Linked DNA regions of Homo sapiens: region 2 is linked to region 1. The links come from fine-mapping of genetic effects on gene expression. A gene starts in region 1. The other region holds a variant in brackets. All regions are shown on one strand. Distances are from middle to middle. Region 1 holds the start of FLNA (filamin A). Region 2 overlaps FLNA (filamin A).

Region 1 (5,364 bases):
CGAGTAGCTGGGAGTACAGTCACATGCCACCATGCCTGGCTTTGTATTTTTAGTATTTAGTATTTGTATTTTTAGTAGAAACAGGATTTCACCATGTTGGCCAGGCTGGTCTCGAACTCCTGACCTCAAGTGATCAGTCCGGCTCGGCCTCCCAAAGTGCTGGGATTACAGGCATAAGCCACCGCGCCTGGCTGTGACATTCACATTCTAAACAAAGCCAGCTGAGGGTGTATGGAATCAACTAGTGTGCCCCTCACTGGGTAGGCCCCAAACTGGGAGCATGAAGAGGTGACATGCCATCTGTAGTTTCACAGTTGAGGGCTGGTGACAAGGGAAGAAGAGGGGAGGGCTCTGGTCATGTCCAGAATGGCTGGCCTGGCTGGTGAGGGTCACAGACCAGTCATCCATGGAGGTTTGCCCATGGGGTGGGAAGAGGTAGACACCTGGGGGAGTAATGAGGAGATGGGGCCCTGTTTTGACTACACGCAAAGATCCTAACAAAGAGGAATCACTGTTGGCAAGGCCCCACTGTGTCCCCAGCAATATGGAAGGAAGTGTGGGTCCATGAAGACAGTGCCTGGCAGTGTGCAGCAGGAGAGCCTTGGGTAGGGCAGGGGTTTGCACCTCATCTTTCAGAGCTGAGGGGACAGATGGCAGTTTGGACTCTGGGCTGCTCAGAGGCTGCCTTGTGGATTTTTTAGTTTTGACAAAATCAGATTCCCCAGCACCTCTGCAAGCCTTCTGCAATCCTGGCCCCTCTCCCAGAGGCCTCTGTGTACTAAGTGCTGCTCCATCCTCCCCCATGCCACCCCTCCCCATACGGATCCAAGCTGTTTCCTTATGAGGTCAAGGAATTCTAGATTTGCCTTCTCCCTAAGGAGCACCCCCCACCCGTTCTGTACCTGCCTCGACACTCTGCCTTTTATGTCCCACCCCTTTGCCCCACAATCAGGTCCCACCACAGATGGCACCAGGAAGCTGAACTGTGATGGTCCCCCTGCACCCACCCTGTGGGTACCTGGAGCCTAAGTCCAGCCCCATTGCAGTGCAGCTCCACTCCAGACCACTGGAAGCCAGGCAGGCTCCTGAGCAGCAGAGCCTCCATCTTATACAGGGAGAGTCAGGACCCTGCGATCAGGGGAGACTTGTCCAAGAGCCCTGAGTACAGCAATTAATTCATGGAACATTCCCCCACCAGTACCTGGTCCCTGGGGGTGATGACCTGGACAGCCTCAGAGAGTTTCCCGTCAAGGGTAGGGTGGGATTTGCAGTCATCAGAGGGTCTGGGAAGGGCGTGTGCAGGAAAATCTGAGGGCCTCAGGGGGTTCTTCCTGGGAAGTGCAGGCAGAGGAGACATCGGGATGCAACCAATTCTAAGTCAAGAATAAGAAAACTGAGTTGCTCCTTAAGGATGGAATGGCTTGCAAGCAGTATATGCTGTATAACTTACAATCCCAACATGATTGAGTTACGAGGAAAAAATATCAACATGGAAACATTCCTCAGTGTCTATGACAAGTAGATGATTGTTCACTGAGCTGTTAACGTTATTTTTTTATTTGTATTTTTATTTTTATATTTATTATTTTTTTCCAAGACACAGTCTAGCTCTATCACCCAGGCTGGAGTGCAGTGGCGCAATCTCAGCTCACTGCAACCTCCGCCTCCCAGGTTCACGCGATTCTCCTGTCTCAGCCTCCCGAGTAGCTGGGATTACAGGCGCCTGCCACCACGCCCAGCTAATTTTTGTATTTTTAGTAGAGACCGGGTTTCACTGTGTTGACCAGGCTGGTCTCAAACTCCTGACCTCGTGATCCACCTGCCTCAGCCTCCCAAAGTGCTGGGATCCACCACGCCCGGCCTTTTTTTTTTTTTTTTTTTTTTTTTTTGAGACGGAGTCTCTATCACCCAGGTTGGAGTGCAGTGACGTGATCTCGGCTCACTGCAACCTCTGCCGCCCGGGTTCACGCGATTTTCCCGCCTCAGCCTCCCGAGTAGCTGGGATTACAGGCGCCTGCCACTGCGCCCGGCTAGTTTTTATATTTTTAGTAGAGACGGGGTTTCACCATCTTGGCCAGGCTGTTCTTGAACTCCTGACCTCGTGATCCACCCACTTCGGCCTCCCAAAGTGCTGGGATTACAGGCATGAACCACCGCACCTGGCCTTTTTTTTTATGTTTAGTGACAGGGTTTCACTGTGTGACCCAGGCTGGAGTGTAGTGGTGAAATTATAGCTCACTGCAGCCTCAAACTCCCGGGCTTAAACGATCCTCCCATCTGTCTCCTGAGCAGCTGAGACTACCGGTGCACGTCACCACGCCCAGCTAATTTTTATATTTTTGGTAGAGATAGTGTCTTGCTGTGTTGCCCAGGTTGGTCTCAAACTCCCGGGCTCAATTAATCCACCTGCCTCAGCTTCCCACAGTGCTAGGATTATAGGCATGAGCCACCATGCCCGGCCAATGTTTTCTTTAAGATCAGAATCTTCTTAATACTAAACAAACTTAACTTTCTCGTCCCCCTGAGCGATCCTGTTTCTGCTGCCCACCCCAGGCCAGACCTGGCAGCGCCTGATCCATGGCAGTCAGGTTCATCCCAGGGCTCGGAGCCCTGCAGTCCCGTCCCGGGGCCCTGCCTGACGTAGGCGCCCAGCCAACACCTGCAACGACCTGTTGCCCCCACCCCAGGAAACAATCCCGGCTTGGGACAGACACCAGGGGCTGTGACTGTGGGTGGCTCCTTGGAGAAGGTGGCCTTGGGCCTCGGCCTTTCCACCTGGGGTGCGCTTGGCTCCCCCAGACTCAGACACGCAGGATCCTTGTGATTGGGCCTAGACACGAGCCCTGCAGTCCCTGTGGGCGCTGGAGGCGACTCCCCCACGAAGCCCTCCCTCCCCCAGGGCCTGGCGGCCCTCGCCGGCGGTGAGCTCATCTCGGGGGGCGGCGTCGCCCGGCGGCGGGTCGCTGGAGCTCACGGCGTGCCCCCGCACCCCCGCCCCCCACGCACCCGTCCCGGGCTCCTGGGCAATTTTACCAATTAAGGCTTTCTCGCCGGGCCGGGCCGGGCGCGGGGCGGGCGCGGGGCGGGGGTGCGGCCAACAAGAAGGCGGGCGGCGGCGGCCCATTCGCGTGGAGGCGCGTCGCGCGCAGCGGACGCCGACAGAATCCCCGAGGCGCCTGGCGCGGGCGCGGGCGCGAAGGCGATCCGGGCGCCACCCCGCGGTCATCGGTCACCGGTCGCTCTCAGGAACAGCAGGTGAGGTCTCCGCGGCCCGGCTTCGCGCCGTAGGGTCGCCGCGCTCCTCGTCGGCCGGGGGCGGGGTTGGAGAAGGCGGGCAGAGAGGCCGGAAAACGCAGGCGCCAGCTCGCGCCCAGGTCCGGGCCAGGTTCAGCTGGGATGCGTGAGCCGATGGAGGCTCCCCTGGCATCTGGGAGTGAGTGTCCAGAGAATAGCTTCCCTAGTTGACCCACGAGCCATGTCTGTGCCCACGAATGTGGGAGCCTGAGGCCATGGGGGGTCCCCGAGAGAGAGAGGGTGTCTGGGCACTTGCCCATGAACGGACCACTGCATGCCTGAGAGAGAAGGGCCCTGACACCAGGAACTTGTGTGGACTCAGGGCGAGTGGCCACCTGGAAGGACACTTCTCAGCCAGTGTGCCCACTGGGAGGGGGACAGCGTGTCCCTTGCTGGCTCGAGTCCACAGGGCACCAGCTGCTTTGGGCACAGGGGAGCTGGTTCTGGGGCTGCTCTACTCCATGGGGGCCATGGTGAGGATGAGACCAGGCCAGGTTCCTTGGTTGGGCCCTGGGCCCTATGCCAGGTTGGCTCTGAGTTGGATGCGCACTGCCAGCCAGGATATAACCAACAATGTCCCCAGATTCCCGTGCCACCTGGGGCCAGGCAAAATAGGTTAAAATCCACTGGCAGACCCATTTGTAAGTGCTCCGAGTGCACCGTCAAGGTGGGAGCTTGGGAATGGGCGACCTCACCTGCCGCACCTGGACTTGCCAGCACAGGTCTCTTCTCACCTTGCCAGTCTGCGGCTTCCTTCCCTCCTGCGCCCCCTGGCTACGCAGGCCTGGAAACAGCTCCTTAGGGATCCCAGCTGAACAGCTCCTGGGCTTGGGCTATACCTCCCAGTGGGAGGGTCTGGCCTGGGGTCTGAGGGCCAGGGGTGGTGTGGTGGGCGGGGTGTGCCTAACATCCAAGAATCTACTCCAAATAAGGGAAAATATGAAAGAGCTGGATTTTGGCTTCCCAGGACTGCCCGATCTGGTGGCTTTGGGATCGGGCGACATCTGGCGGTTGATACTATGTTCTAGGGACAAGAACCCTCTACACGCCCATTCCTTGTTTCCTCTAAATAGGGAAAAGCTAGGGCTGGAAGACACGGCACCCACCTCCTGACACTCTTTCTGCTGGAATTGACCACTGGTCACTCTGACTCAGTTTCCCTGAGCTCTGAAGATTAAGGAATGAACCCAGACAACCCAGCTCAATGGCCCTTAGTGGAGAGAGAGTCAATTATTGATGGAATTCCGTGCCTGGGAACTTGCTTTCCAGTGGGGCAGGGGGACCAGAAGGACAACTTCAAGCCCGTCTTGAATGGGGCCCGTGCAGGGAGGGGTCTGTATGGGTTCCCCCTTCCCAGCCCTCCCTCCCACCTCCACCCCAGCTCCCAGACGCCCAGGCGCACTTGGTGCAGGTGTGTCTCAAAGTGGTCAGGAGAGGGGACAATATACAGGGGTTGGCCTCAGTACTGGAAAATGCCATTTGCACCCCCTAACACCACTACTAGTGGGAAAAACCAGTGGGGCCACAGGCTGCCCCGAAGTGAATGTGCTGGGCGGATCACAGCCCCACCACGTGTCATGTAGACACCCAGGGCTACAGGAGAGTCAACCATATTTGGGCATGACGTGCTGGCCAACCCAGGGCCTCCATCTCTCACTGGTCTTTAGCAGATAAATTAATTATTACTAGAATTGAACAGGAGGGACAGATACCTGCCTTCCTAGAAAAAAAAAAAAAACACTCAGAGGAGGAAACATTCTGGAGAGGGGAGGTACCGAGGACTGAGAGGGAGGGGAGTGCACAATGGGGAGGAAGCCATAGGCAGGCTGGCTTCTGACTGAAGATAGTAGCAGTGAGCGTCCCCAGCCGTCCCCTGGTCCCAGTCTACATCTCGGCACAGCAGCCACTGCACCATCTCCAGAGTTATCTACCAGAAAATTTTGAGTGAAGAGCCCCCACAGCTCTGGGGACACAACCCCCCAGGCCCCTGATCCCTGTCCTCAGGCCTCCTCTGCACCTGCCACCACACCTGAAGCCCACCCAGACCCAGGTGCTCAGAGCCTGACAAGT
Region 2 (5,364 bases), 28 kb after region 1:
GCTGGTTTGAGGAGGGGCCCCAGGCCCACAGCATGACTCCCTGCTCCTCAGATAAGTATGCTGTGCGCTTCATCCCTCGGGAGAATGGCGTTTACCTGATTGACGTCAAGTTCAACGGCACCCACATCCCTGGAAGCCCCTTCAAGATCCGAGTTGGGGAGCCTGGGCATGGAGGGGACCCAGGCTTGGTGTCTGCTTACGGAGCAGGTCTGGAAGGCGGTGTCACAGGTAAGTCTGTCGGTGCGGCTGCACGTGTGCACACAGCTGCTAGGCCCTTGCCTCCAAGCTCTTGGTGACAACAGGAGGCACCTGGAGGTGACAAGCCTGTGCTGGGTGGCCGAGGACAGGGAGGCAGGCCAGTCTGGCTCTGCCTGACCTCCTGTGCTCCCAGGGAACCCAGCTGAGTTCGTCGTGAACACGAGCAATGCGGGAGCTGGTGCCCTGTCGGTGACCATTGACGGCCCCTCCAAGGTGAAGATGGATTGCCAGGAGTGCCCTGAGGGCTACCGCGTCACCTATACCCCCATGGCACCTGGCAGCTACCTCATCTCCATCAAGTACGGCGGCCCCTACCACATTGGGGGCAGCCCCTTCAAGGCCAAAGTCACAGGTGAGCCTGGGGCCAAGCTATTGGCATCTGCCCAACGCCCGGCACCACAGCCACCTCTTAGCCCCACCCACTCTGCCTTGCAGGCCCCCGTCTCGTCAGCAACCACAGCCTCCACGAGACATCATCAGTGTTTGTAGACTCTCTGACCAAGGCCACCTGTGCCCCCCAGCATGGGGCCCCGGGTCCTGGGCCTGCTGACGCCAGCAAGGTGGTGGCCAAGGGCCTGGGGCTGAGCAAGGCCTACGTAGGCCAGAAGAGCAGCTTCACAGTAGACTGCAGCAAAGCAGGTGGGCAACCTGGGCCCCCGGCCCACCTTCCCACCAAAATGAGGCCAGAAATCACAGGATGGCCAGTGTCTGGGAGAGCAGGGACCGCCTTTGGGGCGTGGCTTTCACTTCTAGAGCCACCTCCCTGCCACCTCCTGGACCCCTCAAACAAAGACCAGGGAGGAGCTGGAATCTGCTAAGCTGGCCTGGGTTGGGGAGGTGCTGGCAGCTCTTTAGGAAGAGAGAACTGTCACCCCAGAACTGGCTTAGGGACAGGAGAGGAGAGCAGGACACCAGCGGGAGGAAGGGGGCTGGGACCTGGGACTGAGGACCCCTCTTGCCTCAGGCAACAACATGCTGCTGGTGGGGGTTCATGGCCCAAGGACCCCCTGCGAGGAGATCCTGGTGAAGCACGTGGGCAGCCGGCTCTACAGCGTGTCCTACCTGCTCAAGGACAAGGGGGAGTACACACTGGTGGTCAAATGGGGGGACGAGCACATCCCAGGCAGCCCCTACCGCGTTGTGGTGCCCTGAGTCTGGGGCCCGTGCCAGCCGGCAGCCCCCAAGCCTGCCCCGCTACCCAAGCAGCCCCGCCCTCTTCCCCTCAACCCCGGCCCAGGCCGCCCTGGCCGCCCGCCTGTCACTGCAGCCGCCCCTGCCCTGTGCCGTGCTGCGCTCACCTGCCTCCCCAGCCAGCCGCTGACCTCTCGGCTTTCACTTGGGCAGAGGGAGCCATTTGGTGGCGCTGCTTGTCTTCTTTGGTTCTGGGAGGGGTGAGGGATGGGGGTCCTGTACACAACCACCCACTAGTTCTCTTCTCCAGCCAAGAGGAATAAAGTTTTGCTTCCATTCTCCTTTGCGTGGCTGTAGCTTTGTTGGGGTTGGGGGACCAGTCAAGGCCAACCTGACAGGGGTGCCAATGAGCAGATCAAAGCATGGGCTGAGCACAGGTCACCTCCCTCCAGGGCTCCTGCTTCACCCCACCCTGACTCCAGAAGGCACCATCTATCTTTGCTTCCTCTGCCTCCCTGAGTTCAAGCCAACGTAAGGAGAGGAACATGTAGCAACCTGGAATGGAGCCCAGGCAGCAAGGAGGCAAAGAGCTGGGCAGGAGAGCCCATTACTGGGTAGGGTGGTGTCAGGAAGGCTCCCTGGTGGAGGTGGCCAGATAATCAACAGCAGGCCCGGCCGGGTGTGGTGGCTCACGCCTGTAATCCCAGCACTTCGGGAGGCCGAGGCAGGCAGATCACAAGGTCAGGAGATCAAGACCATCCTGGCTAACACGGTGAAACCCCGTCTCTACTAAAAATACAAAAAATTAGCCAGGTGTGGTGGCGGGCGCCTGTAGTCCCAGCTACTCGGGAGGCTGAGGCAGGAGAATGGTGCGAACCCAGGAGACAGAGCTTGCAGTGAGCCGAGATCGCGCCACTGCCCTCCAGCCTGGGCGACAGAGCGAGACTCTGTCTCAAAAAAAAAAAAAAAAAAAAATCACAGCAGGCCCTGGCCATCTGCCAGGTAACTTGAACATGCCACCATGCCACCATTCCCCCAAACAAGGGACTGGGATGAGGCCCCCTCCCCCAGGCTCTGGGCCTCAGGGCCCTTTAGTTAACAGGTGGCAGGAGGTGGATGCATTCAAGGTGCCAATCCCAGGTACCCTGGGCCCCCTGCTGAATATCCCCTCATTGGTACCCCTGCCGTGGATTCCCACACCAACCTATGTGTCTCCCACTGTAAAGATTGCCCCCAAACACATAACATCCCAAGTCGTCCTGGCTCCTGGTGCTGCCTGCATGCTATCGGGACATCCCAACTGCAGCACCCAAAGCTGCCTGCTCCCTGGGCCAAAGGCTTTGGCCCTCGATCAAACCCCTGACAAGGACACCACCACCTCAGACATCTGCAGACAAGGGCCAGGAAGCAAGGCT[C/T]TCGGGGGCAACGCTCAGCTTTCTCGCCACATCCTCCCTCAGCTCCACAGCGTCTGACACGACCAGGCCGTAGCCTGCAGCCATGGCACACGTCAAACCCAGACCTTCTGAGACCTCAACACCACGCGTACCCTCCTTGACCCCTGTTGAGAGGGCAAAGTAGAAAAGGCAGCGGCAGTTCAGGCAGGATGGCTACTTTTATTTCTCACTGGGGCTGGGCTGCTGGCCCCAGGCTCAGGGCGGCCACTCACTGGGAGACACGGGGCAAGCAAGACACAGAAAGGGGAAGTCCCACCCCCAGCCGCAGCCACTCTACTGCTCCCCCTGGGCCCAATGGCATAGAGGTAAAGGGGCCAAGCACACTCTGGAAGCCTCTAAAAGCCACCAGCTGAACGGGGCTGTGAGGCAGCAGAGCCAGGCCCAGAAAGATGCAGTGCCAGTTGGGAGGACGGGAGGTCCCCCTGAGGCTGCGACTTGTCCGCTCAGCCCACTGTGTGCCCAGGATTCTGAACCTCTGGGGCACTCCCTCCTGTCCCGAGTCACCCAGGGTCTCCTGCCCCCTCCCTGTGTCTGCTCCATCACATCCCCTCTCAAGCCCCATGCCTGGCAGGGCCACCGCCCTAGGGCTGGGCTAGGTGAACCAAGGGCACCGGTCCCCCAAACCTGCCGATCGTCCCCAGGCTGCAGGGAGGGACACATGTGGGGCGGCAAGGGCAGAAGATAAACTAGGGGGATCCGGGCCCCTGAGGACAGCCCTGGCGGGAGGCCACAGGCCTCACAGGGTGGTGAGCTGGAGGCCACCCAGGCAGGCAGGCAGGCAGCAGGGAAAGAGACTGGCACGGTCCTGGCCAGGGCCCCCCCCGGGAAGGGCGGGCAAGTAGGAGCAAAAACAAGAGCAGAGCACGGGCCCCCACCCTGCCGGGTCCTATGGCCTGGGGACTCACACACACTGAGGAAGACCCAGGAGGACCCGCCAGGCTACTAGGAGGAGATAAAGGGTGCACAGGCCTCCAACCCGCAGGTTGTGTCTGGACTGAGTCCAGGGAGGGCAGGGAGGGGCGGTAGCCCAGTTGACCTTCCCTCCCCCAAGCCACACCTCTGCACCCCAACCCTCCCTTCCGCCTCCCAACAGCCCCATCCCCGCTCTCCGAGGAAACTGGGAGGGGACCTGGAGAGGAAAGGGAAGCAACGGCCCCTCAGAGCGGGGTTCCCCAAAATCCATGGCCAGGGACTGAGGCCAGCACTCAGACACTGTTGGGAACACTGGCCAGGAGTCCCTCGGGGTGGACCTGGGAACCTGCTGCAGAAGCTTAGGGGACCGGGCCAGCTCAGGAAAGGGCTCAGGCTGGAAACCGAGCAGACAGGGCACCGCTGGACCTGGGGCCGAGGAGGACAGGAAGTAGGTGACTATGGAAAGACCCCCGCCGCCACCCACGCCCAACTCGGCACACAAAGGCCCAGAGAGGCCCCCAGACATGCCTGTGGGGGCAGGGGTGTTTGCAAACATTTGCAGAGGGACCGGGTGTCCCAGGCACATGGACAGCTTGCAGGGCCCGGCTGAGGCTAGGACAGCAGCAGGTGGCTGGCAGGAGGTGCCCCGCCAGGGTCCCCAACTGTGTGGGGGGCAGGCCCGAGGCAGGCGGCACCAGTCCCGGGCAGGATCTCTCGGAAGAGGGGCCGTACCCAGCCAGGGTTCCCAGAGACACGGGTGGTGGGGCCGAGTGCCCCCTCACCCTGTGCCTGGCCCCCAACAAAGGGTGAGCATGTATCCTTCCTGGACACGGTGTCCAGGGCAGGGCACTCCCGAACCAGGATGCCCCCTAGGCCACAGGACCCCTCAGCCCCAGCTGACAGCAGCCGGGGGGGATCTGGGGAGGCCCCCAGGAGGCAGGGCGGCAGCCAAGCAGAACACCATCCCTGGACCCACTCTCCAACTGCAACCAGGGCCCGCTCCCCCGAAGGCACCAGCTCTCCCTAGGGGCAGGACCTTGATCCAGAGCAGGAGTGGAGGCCCCCAACAGGGGACGGCTGGAGAGGCCCTGGGCTCACGAGCCAGGGAGCGGCGCCTCTGTGCCCGGAAGCCCCTGGGTCCTGCCTGGGCTGCTGGTAGCTGCTGCGGGCCGAGGGGTCCGGACGCCCCTAGGGTGCTCTGGGGCAGCTCCTTTGGGACCCTCAATGGAGCCAGTAAGTCCAGGAGGGCGCCGATCCGTCCAGGTGGGTGCATGGGCCGGGACAGGGTCTGGCTGCTGTCGTGGCTGTGCCCATCTGCCGAACAGGTCGCTAGGAGAGCACTCCCTGAGCGAGGGCGCCGGGCAGCCCGGGGAGGGAGGACACAGTCCCCGTCCAGGCCCCCGAGGCCCCCATAGCAGGGAGAGCCGGCCCTCCTCGCTGTTCTTCCCGCGGGATCGGGCCGGCACCTCGGCTCAGGGGAGAGAGGGTCACAGAGGACAGCCAGCAGGCAGGTGGCCCAGGAGTGTGGGGGGTCGGTGGGCCTGACCGTGTCCTGAAGCACCCCAGGACCCTGTACCCGACACCCTGGGGGAGGGGCTGTCCCCACTTG

The links. PIP is the estimated chance that this variant, and not a neighbour inherited with it, causes the effect.
Region 2: its variant is the best candidate, but not a certain one, in a credible set for the expression of FLNA in whole blood (TOPMed, PIP 0.90).

The regions. Positions count from the first base shown.
Region 1 is chrX:154,372,397-154,377,760 of GRCh38, reverse strand. FLNA (filamin A) reads left to right here and starts at 3,127. Exons shown (of 48, transcript NM_001110556.2): 1 at 3,127-3,255. RefSeq lists silencers at 3,041-3,180, 3,191-3,250, 4,793-4,852 and an enhancer at 4,340-4,389.
Region 2 is chrX:154,344,895-154,350,258 of GRCh38, reverse strand. FLNA (filamin A) reads left to right here. Exons shown (of 48, transcript NM_001110556.2): 45 at 52-228; 46 at 392-610; 47 at 694-897; 48 at 1,223-1,728. The coding sequence ends at 1,410. Among named protein-coding and RNA genes, the nearest start is that of FLNA, 27 kb to the left of the region's middle. RefSeq lists enhancers at 2,506-2,595, 2,626-2,765. The variant C/T (reference allele first, on the strand shown) is at 2,805.